2 linked regions of the Homo sapiens genome follow. The protein of the gene in region 1 interacts with the protein of each later gene in a biochemical or structural test. Each region holds a gene or a part of one and is shown in the gene's direction. Other genes may lie near its edges.

Region 1 (5,737 bases):
GTTTTCCAGGTACCATCTGTCATAGCTTCCCTTGGCTAGGAAAGGGAATTCCCCGACCCCTTGTGCTTCCTGGGTGAGGCGATGCCCCACTGTGCTCTGTGGGCTGCACCCACTGTCTGACAAGCCCCAGTGAGATGAACCCGGTACCTCAGTTGGAAATGCAGAAATCACCCGTCTTCTGCATCACTCACGCTGGGAGCTATAGACTGGAGCTGTTCCTATTTGGCCATCTTGGATCCTCCTATCAGTTTATTTTTTTAAATTTCCATTTCTTTACTGAGATTCTCTTTTTATTCATTATATTCACCTGTTCATTTCTTACATATTAGACCTTTTTTATATTCATCTTTTCATTTCTTAAATATTAGACCTGTTTGTATCTAAATGCCAATATCTATGTCATCTTAGGATCGATCTGTTGAAGGCCTCTTTCTCTGGATTATGGGTCACATTTTCTTGTTTCTTTAGATATCCAGTGATTTTTTTTAAATTGGTTAATAGACTGTGGATCTTTTCAATATAAAAGTTGTAAGGAAATATAGAATACACTGTTTTCCTTTAAAGGGTATTGAATTTTTTTCTTGTAGGCAGTTAGATTAGTAAGGAATACTCTTGATCCTGTCAGACTTTGTTTTATGCTTTGTTAGGATGGGTTTATTTTGCTTTTGTCCTTAGTCCTAGAGCATGGTCCTTACTCTAGGACATGACCCTTATTTCCAAAGCATGGCCTTTTTAGGGTTGTAAGTGGTTGACCAAGGTAAGCAATGAAGTATTCCCACTATAGTTGGATTGGAACTCCAATGTCTCCAAAACTATGCAACCTTTATTATCTTCTTCATTAACAGCAGCTACTCTCTGTTAGACCTTACAGAGCCTCACTCTACACATGTGCAGCCCAGGCCTTGCCAAGACCCAAGGGAAACCCCCACACAGACTCTTGGAGCATCCCTCCACATGACTGCTTCATTTCTAGTACCCTGCCCTGGAAATTCAGCTGTCTCAGCAGCCCCAGACTCCTATCTGTTTCATGAGCCCAGTGAGACTAGTGACTGCTTGATGCTATGACTCCTCCTTCCTATACCGTTGTCTGGAAAGTGTCACCAAGTACAGAGCCAGGGTGAATATGGGGGTTATATCATGTTTTTTCTTACTCTCAGTTATCAAGCTGCTGCATACATTTTATCTAGCTTTATAGCTAATTAGGGCAGAAGGGTAAATCTGATACCAATTATGATATCATGGATGGATGCAAAAGTCTCCAATTCAGTCATTTATCCTTTTTTATAATCAGATAATTTAATCCATTACTAATTATGTGTATAATTCATATTTTATCTTTAGAATTTTTTATTTTCCTCTAATTTTTTATTTTGGTTCCCTCCACTATTGAGAGTTATTTGCTATGATCTTATGCAGTGACATATTTGCATACCAATGCAGTCTATCATTCTGATGATAGTTCTGCTGTAATTTACCTTGTTTTAAAAATATATTTTCTTGAATTTTTATTATACTAATAAACCTGGAATAATTTAAAAAATAATCATTTAAAGCATGACATAAAACTATCCATTCAATTTTTGAGCAAATTATGTTGGTTCTATCTTCAGTGCATATACAGAGTCCCACTACCCTAATCTAAACCACTATTTTCTTCTGTTGGCTGGGCTGTTACAAAAGCCTAATAACCCAGCCCCCTTCTACCTTGCCTCTCCCTCATTCAGTTTTCCACATAGCAGCCAGAATGATATTTCTAAAATGGTGAATAAACTGTGTCACTTATGCTCAGAAACCCCCAATGGCTTCTCATCTCAAAATGAAATCCAAAGTTCCTACCATGGCCAGCAAGGTTATACATTACCTGATCCCTACTACTTCCCTGACTTCATCTTCCACTCTTCAGCTACTTTGCTACAGCTTCACTTTGACTTCTTTGCTATTTATTGATCATGCCAAACACAATCCCTTCTTAGCTCCTTTGCTCTTATTGTTACCACTGTTTTTCTCCAGATATCCCATAACTTCCTCCCTTTCTATTTAAATACCATCCTTTCTCCTCACTGCTGTGTTTATTACCCTCCTTCCCATATTTTCTTTTGAATCAGACAGATCAGTCAATCAATCAGTCAGTCACTTATTTTTATCCTGTCTGTGCAGAACACTGTCCAATAGAACTTTCTGGGATGATGGAAATTTTCTGTATTTGCACTGTCCATTAGAGTAGCTGCTAGCCATGTGTGTCTGTTAAGCACTTGAAATGTAGCTAGTATGACTGAGAAACTGAAGTTTAAATTTTATTTAAATAGCCACTTATGACTTGTGGTTACTGTATTGTACAGTACAGAATGTGTGAGAGAGGGAACCTTAATTTTATTAATGCAACCCAGTACTTTAGTGCCTGCTATGTAGTAAATACTATGAATATCTGTTGAAAGAACAAAAGAATGGGGATACCCATGTATCCTGTTGCTCCCTGAATCCTTGAATCTTTAAAAATATTTTAACTTTAAAATTGTATTTAATTGACACATAATTTCACATATTTATGGAGTACAGTGTGATGTTTTGATACATGTACACATTGTGTAATTAGCATATTACCTCAAACACTTGTCATTTCTTTATGATGAGAACATTCAAAAATCCTCTCCTCATTATTTTGAAATATACGGTATTGTTAACTGTAGTCACTCTACTGTGTAATAGAACACCAGAACTTATTCCTCCTATCTATTACTTTGTATCTGGACTCTTTTGATCTATAACTCCCGATTGAACATTTTTATGTCATCTCTAGCAATTCCCAGACTTCCAGGTGTTTGGCAATGATTCTTTAGATCCAGGGGTCTTCTCCACAAAGTTCAGTTGTGCATCAAAGATCCTGAATAATCTTCTAAATTAGACTAGAGCATATTTGGCAATGTGGGTTACAAACAAGGGAAAAAATGCAAGATATAGGCAACAGATGAGGGAAATGCAAGATATAAGCTCAATCACAAAGCTTATATTTGGGGGAAGTATTAAATGAATGTATCTTTTCCTTTTGCATTCTAGCCAGGAATCCACATGAGGTGACACTTTTCCCAAGGGTAAAGAGTACCAAATCTGTCTTCTTTCTCTCCTTTATTCCTCCAAATAAGAGCTCTTTGAACTTTTGAAAATTCCCTGAAGATACTATCCATCATGAACTTTGAGGGACCACGAAATAAGCCACTCCTACTAGCTTTTTCTTATGTTAAAATTATCATGGCTGCTATCTTTATAAGAAAATTCTTATGACTGAAAATCCTTATGGCCACCCTTTACAATAGGAACTACAGTTTTGAAAAATGGGCTTAGCCATTTTAAGTAACTGCTGAAAGATATTCTTAAAACTTAAGCGTGATGTATTTGGTTTGGATACTAGGAATGCAGGTAATGAGGCTGGCATTATTATGAAAAATTGAAGAGTAGGAAATATATTCTTGTAGGATCCCATAAGCAGGGCTTCAAAATGTAGTTCTTGTTTATCTAAACTAAGTAAAGCTTGTTTTTCTAATCAGCAGGAAAACAGAGATCCACAACAAGCTTTTCGATTATGGCTTAAAAAAAAGCACGAAGAGCAGATGAAAGAAAGACAGACAGAAGAACTAAGAAAGCAAGAGGAATGTTTATTCTTCCTTAAAGGAACAGAAGGCCGGGAAAGGGCCTTTAAACAGTAAGTTAAAGGCAGGGCATTTCCCCCCTCCTCCTTCCTCATGTTCATTTTAAAAGTTATATCATCAATTAAGATTGGAAAAAAAAAACCCTCAAAATGTTTTCTCTTACAGCACGTACCTATTCAATTTTAAATTCATGCTTTTAAAAATGTATAATTCTTTAACTCTATTATATATATTATATATATGGAGTTATATATATATATGCATACCAATTTTTCTTCAAGATACTTTTCAATACTTAAATTATTTCTTATGGCACCAGTGTGATAGCCTTTGATACCTTATCATTTATTGTTTACTTATTTCTGTGAGAAATGGGTTGAAGATTGGTTACAGCTTCTCCTACATAGCCCTCAGAAAAACTGAATTTACAAATAAATGCAACCAATAAAAGTTGCATTTACCAGTAAAAGAAAGGCAGGTGGACTAAGGAGGAAAATCTGTATAGACCAAAGGAGATTTGGGTACATATTTTGGTAATTTAAGGCAAACCTGATATTTTTTAGTTATTTGGGTAAGACACTGCATTGCCTAATTCTGACAATACAGATGTGGCTTCATATTTTTGCTAGCAAGTGTGGGGAGAGTTGGGGGACCAAATGTGAATATTGAGTCCAATTGTTTGAAGTTCATTTCATTCTTTCGTCTCTTTTGCTCTTTCCTTCTTTTTTCTCTTCCTTCCTTTTTCTTTTCCTGTCACCCAGGCTGGAGTGCAGTGGCATGATCTCAGCTCACTGCAACCTCACCCTCCCAGGTTCAAGTGATTTTCCCACCTCAGCCTCCCAAGTAGCTGGGACCACAGGTGTGCACCACCACACCTGGCTAATTTTTATATTTTTTTTGTAGAGATGGGGTCTCACCATGTTGCTCAGGCTGGTCTCAAACTCCAGACCTCAAGTGATCCGCCCACCTTGGCCTCCCAAAGTGCTGAGATTAGAGGCATGAGCCACCATGCCCAGCCTCCTTTTTGTTTTTCTAACATACCCTTTTATTATAACAGAAACAGTAAATGTGCATTGTAGAAATGGAGCGGTTTCAAGTTACATTTTCATCACCCAGAAATTGTGACTGTTAACACCAGTATGCATACTGTCTAAGTATTTGTCTGTACATGTATTTACAATTTCAAAATACTGAGATCATACTGTATTTCTGCAATCTGCTTTTCATTAATGATATTACCGAATATCCAGCCCATATCCATTTATTCCCCAACTAACCCATAAATGACTTACAGTTTATTTGCTTAAACTAGTAGCCAATTCAGGACCACATATCATCAGATTATGATATTTAGTAAGTTTCTTTTTTTTCTAATACAGTTATTTAGTTGTTTATTCTGAAAAAAAAAAAACAACAAAACCAGGTGTATGTATGTGCATATACACACACACACACACACAAACATACCACATACACACTTACATACCAGGTATATATGTATATGCAGTTATTTTTGCTATTATTTAAACAAGGTTTAAGACTTGAATTTGTTAGAATGTGGACTTTTCCTTTCCTGCTTTTGATGTTTTCATGTTTGGCTTACTTTTCATTTTAAGAACTATTTTGTGGACTTAAAAGCTCTATAATTTACCTATAAGAAGAGTAAGGCAGCATTTCTGCATGATAGTATTCTTAACCTAGCTAAGTAATGTTTTAGAATACAGCTAGTTACAAAGAGTAAGTTATTTGGAATCTACCAAATAGTAAGAAATCCTGTTTCTAAAAAAAGAATAGGATCTACAGCACACATAAAATAGTGTTTATTATTAAAAAACCAATTAAGTTGGCAGTTTCATTGTAAGACAGACAATTTCAAACATTTGACCCCAAATCTAACGGTCCTTTCTTGTATGAGCCTTGGGTGTAATCTTTACATTTTTCAGTTAATACTTAAAAATTTGTGCTGTGACAGTATTTCATTGTAAAGAAATGTCCATTTATTTTGTCTATAATAGTAACTTTATAGCATGAAGAGTGTATTCAGGTTGATACTCACCAAATCTGATCATGCCTGTTTCTACAGATGGTTAAGA
Region 2 (3,741 bases), on another chromosome or scaffold:
CACGTAGTTGGGATTACGGGCTCCTGCCACCACGCCCCACTATTTTTTAATTTTTTTTTTTTTGTATTTTTAGTAGAGATGGGGTTTCACCATGTTGGCCATGCTGGTCTTGAACTCCTGACCTCAGGTGATCCACCCTCCTTGGCCTCCCAAAATGGTGGGATTACAGGTGTGAGCCAACGCGCCTGGCCACTGAGTTCTTATTTGTGTGCCAGGCACCAGACTAAGTACGTTTCCATCCTTGCCTCCCAACAAGCCTGTAAGCTAAGTGCCTTTATTATCCCCTATTATAGAAAAGGAAACTGAGGCTTAGGAGGGTTAAATAACTAGCACAAGTTCAAAAGCCAGTGAATGGTGGCCGGGCGCAGTGGCTCACATCTGTAATCCCAGCACTTCAGGAGGCTGAGGCGGGTAGATCACTTGAGGTCAGGAGTTTGAGACCAGCCTGGCCAACATGGCAAAACCCCGTCTCTACCAAAAAATACAAAAATTAGACAGGCATGGTGGCGCGCAACTATAGACCCAGCTACTCGGGAGGCTGAGGCACAAGAATCGCTTGAACCCAGGGGGTGGAGGTTGCAGTAAGCCAAGATGGCACCACTGCACTCCAGCCTGGGCAACACAGCGAGACTCTGTCTCAAAAAAAAAAAAAAAAAAAAAGCTGGTGAATGGCAAAACTGGAGTATTAGCTATTGCTACAAAGGAAGCCACCTAAAGTGGGGCTTAAAATAGCACCCACTTATTATTATTATTTTTTTTGTGGCAAGGTCTCACTCTGTCACCAAGGCTGGAGGGCAGTGGTGCTCTTGGCTCACTGCAATCTCTGCCTCCTGGGTTCAAGCGATTCTCTTGCCTCAGCCTCTCGAATAGCTGGGATTACAGGCGTGTGCCACCACGCATGGCTAAGTTTTATATTTTTGGTAGAGATGGGGTTTCACTATGTTGGCCAGGCTGGTCTCGAACTCCTGACCCCAAGTGATCCACCCACCTTGGCCTCCCAAAGTGCTGGGATTACAGGCGTGAGCCACTGTACCAGGCCAACTTACTATTGCTTATGAGTCAATGGGTCAGCTGGGTGGCTGTGCTGCCCTGGGCCAGGTTTGGCTGATCCCTACAGGCTCTTGTGCCTGTGGTCAGCTGGCAGGCTGGCTGCTGGCTGACTGGTCTAGCTAGTATGGACTTGGTTAGAGGGGGTTTGCTATCTATCTTCCACATGGTCACTCATTTCTGGACAGCTAGCTTGGGCTTGTCCACATGGTGGCCTTAGGGTTCCAAGAACATGAGCAGAAGTGTTCAAGGACACCTCCTGGCATGGCATCACTGCTGCCTTACTCTGTTGGCCAAAGCAAGTCACAAGGCCAGCCTCGATTCAAGGGATGGGGAAATAGACGCCACTTCTTTTTTTCCATTTTTTTTTTTTGGTGGAGGCAGGGTCTTGCTATGTTGCCCAGGCTGGTCTTGAACTCCTGGGCTCAAGCAGTCCTCCTGCCTCAGCCTCCCAAAGTGCAGGATTATAGGCGCGAGCCACTGCACCTGGCCTAGACTCCACTTCTTAGTGGGAGAAGCTGTAAAGCCACATTGAAGGAGGATGGATACATGGAAGGATAAAATTTAATAATTAAACTAGCAGCCCAGGTATTTTCTTAAAGCCCAACATCAGCTCCCTTGATATACCTTCTTCGTGATGTCATGATGCCACTAAGAAGCATTCTGGGACCTCAGTGGCATGGGTCATGGGAGAAGGACCAGGGACCAGGGCTGGAGAAACTGACCAAGTCCTTGGGCTGATCCCCGAGGTGTGGGTAATCTGACATCAATGCCCAGCATCCAAAGGGGAATGGCCAACTCAGGTTAGACCTGGACACATACACATCTGAGCAGGTTCATCTGGGGACGAGCCTGGCACAGGAATCTGACAAGGGTGATATTTTAACCCACGATAGTGGCCAAGTCTCTAGGTAGATTATTGGTGGGAAGTGGAATTGTAGTTTTCACTGGGGAGATAGGGACAGGGTACAGCTTTCCCTTCCCAGGGATCACACTGGACAAACTAGACAGTGTCAAGGGTTCAACAACAGTTTGGGATTCAGGTCAGGGATCTAGCCCTACTGCAGTCCTAGTTATTGAAACTAAGGAGAAACAAGGGTTAGAGTAGCAGCTTAGCAGTCAGCTTGGTTGCAGGTCTTCTCCTTATAGGATGCACTAGATCTCAATTCTGAGGCTGACATGACATAAACAGGACACACATGCTTCTGTTCCCACACTTTGGTGTCCATAGCAGACATCACTAATGGATCACAGAACAGTTTTTCCGGTGAGTCCAGACAAGGTCTCAGAATCCTTCTCAACACAGTGTTTCACCAGGTACTATACAACTGAAGAACATTAGCATATGAGTTGAAATCTGCATACTCTAATCCCTGGTTGCAGGCAGTATGACATTCTGTGCCCCACTGACTGATGGGACTGAGTCTTCTTCATGCTCCCCTCCCTGGCTGGTTTAGGGACAGGTTGTTGCTGCCAAACTGTGTTGAGAAGGAATCTGAAGCTCCACCTGGGCTTAGTAGGAAAGGAGAACCATGATGAGTTTGAGATGTCTAGAGCAGGAGAGGCCCCTTAGAGAACACGGCTTTGGGGACAGTCAGGACTGATGCCTGGTTTCAGCCCCCACTTTTCCTCTCTGGGTTGGGGTGGAGTGGGAAACTGTCAGAGAGAGAGTCTACCCCTGCGAATAGGGGCATTCCAGAGCCCCCAAGACCTCTAAGAATGGTAGGCCGCATTAGGATTTCCCAACACTATTGACATTTGAGACCAGATCATTCTTCGTGGCGGGGACCATCCTGTGCATTGTAGGGTGTCAGGCAGCACCCCTGGCCTCCACCCACCTGATGCCAGTAGCACCCCCACCCCCAGTTGTAACAACCAAATATGTCTCTAGACATTGTCAAATGTCCCCTGGTGGGAAAAACTGAGACCCTCCCTGGACTAGATCCTGAAAACCTTTTCCCTCCCGGTAGCAGGGAACCACCAGGTTGTGTAAGGAGGGGTGAACTGTCCCAGGTTGGAAACAGAGCAGGTCAAAACTCCTACGCTTATCAGTAGTGGGATTGAGCCTGTGAGTAGCCACTGCACTCCAGCCTGGGCAACATAGCAAGACCCCATCTCAGAAAGAAAGAGAGAGAGAGAGAGATAACCTCTTCCTTATCAGCAAGAGTTTATGGAAAGGCTTCAAAGGTTTTGGGATCAGGAGGACCTGGGTCTGGTGTGGCTTGGCTGATGTGTAGGGTGACATGGGTCAGCGTGTGGGCCAGCGTGCTCCGCTCACTAGGCCTCAGCTTTCTCCTCCAGCAAATGAGAATGACACCCTCCACCTCTCTGTGGGTGTGCTCACACTCAGTGAGTGCCACCCCTATCCTCCCACAGCCCTGGTCTCCCTCCTGAACCCGTGTGCCAACATGAAGGTGTGCAATGAGGACCAGACCAACTGCACAGTGCCCACTTACCCCTCGTGCCGTGACAGCGAGACCTTCAGCACCTTCCTCCTGGACCTGTTTAAGCTGACCATCGGCATGGGCGACCTGGAGATGCTGAGCAGCACCAAGTACCCCGTGGTCTTCATCATCCTGCTGGTGACCTACATCATCCTCACCTTTGTGCTGCTCCTCAACATGCTCATTGCCCTCATGGGCGAGACAGTGGGCCAGGTCTCCAAGGAGAGCAAGCACATCTGGAAGCTGCAGG

What was found. The genes of interacting proteins can lie anywhere in the genome.
Region 2: the proteins of CCDC181 (region 1) and TRPV4 interact in a test that uses a peptide from one of them, tested with the Homo sapiens proteins (one large-scale study listed by BioGRID).

Annotation. Positions count from the first base shown.
Region 1 is NC_000001.11:169,395,197-169,400,933, reverse strand, and holds part of CCDC181 (coiled-coil domain-containing protein 181), read left to right. Parts: intron 1-3,542; coding exon 3,543-3,697; intron 3,698-4,358; exon of another isoform or gene 4,359-5,040; intron 5,041-5,727; coding exon 5,728-5,737. UniProt on the Homo sapiens protein: Microtubule-binding protein that localizes to the microtubular manchette of elongating spermatids.
Region 2 is NC_000012.12:109,788,399-109,792,139, reverse strand, and holds part of TRPV4 (transient receptor potential cation channel subfamily V member 4), read left to right. Parts: intron 1-3,397; coding exon of another isoform or gene 3,398-3,423; coding exon 3,424-3,740; intron 3,741-3,741. UniProt on the Homo sapiens protein: Non-selective calcium permeant cation channel involved in osmotic sensitivity and mechanosensitivity. Activation by exposure to hypotonicity within the physiological range exhibits an outward rectification.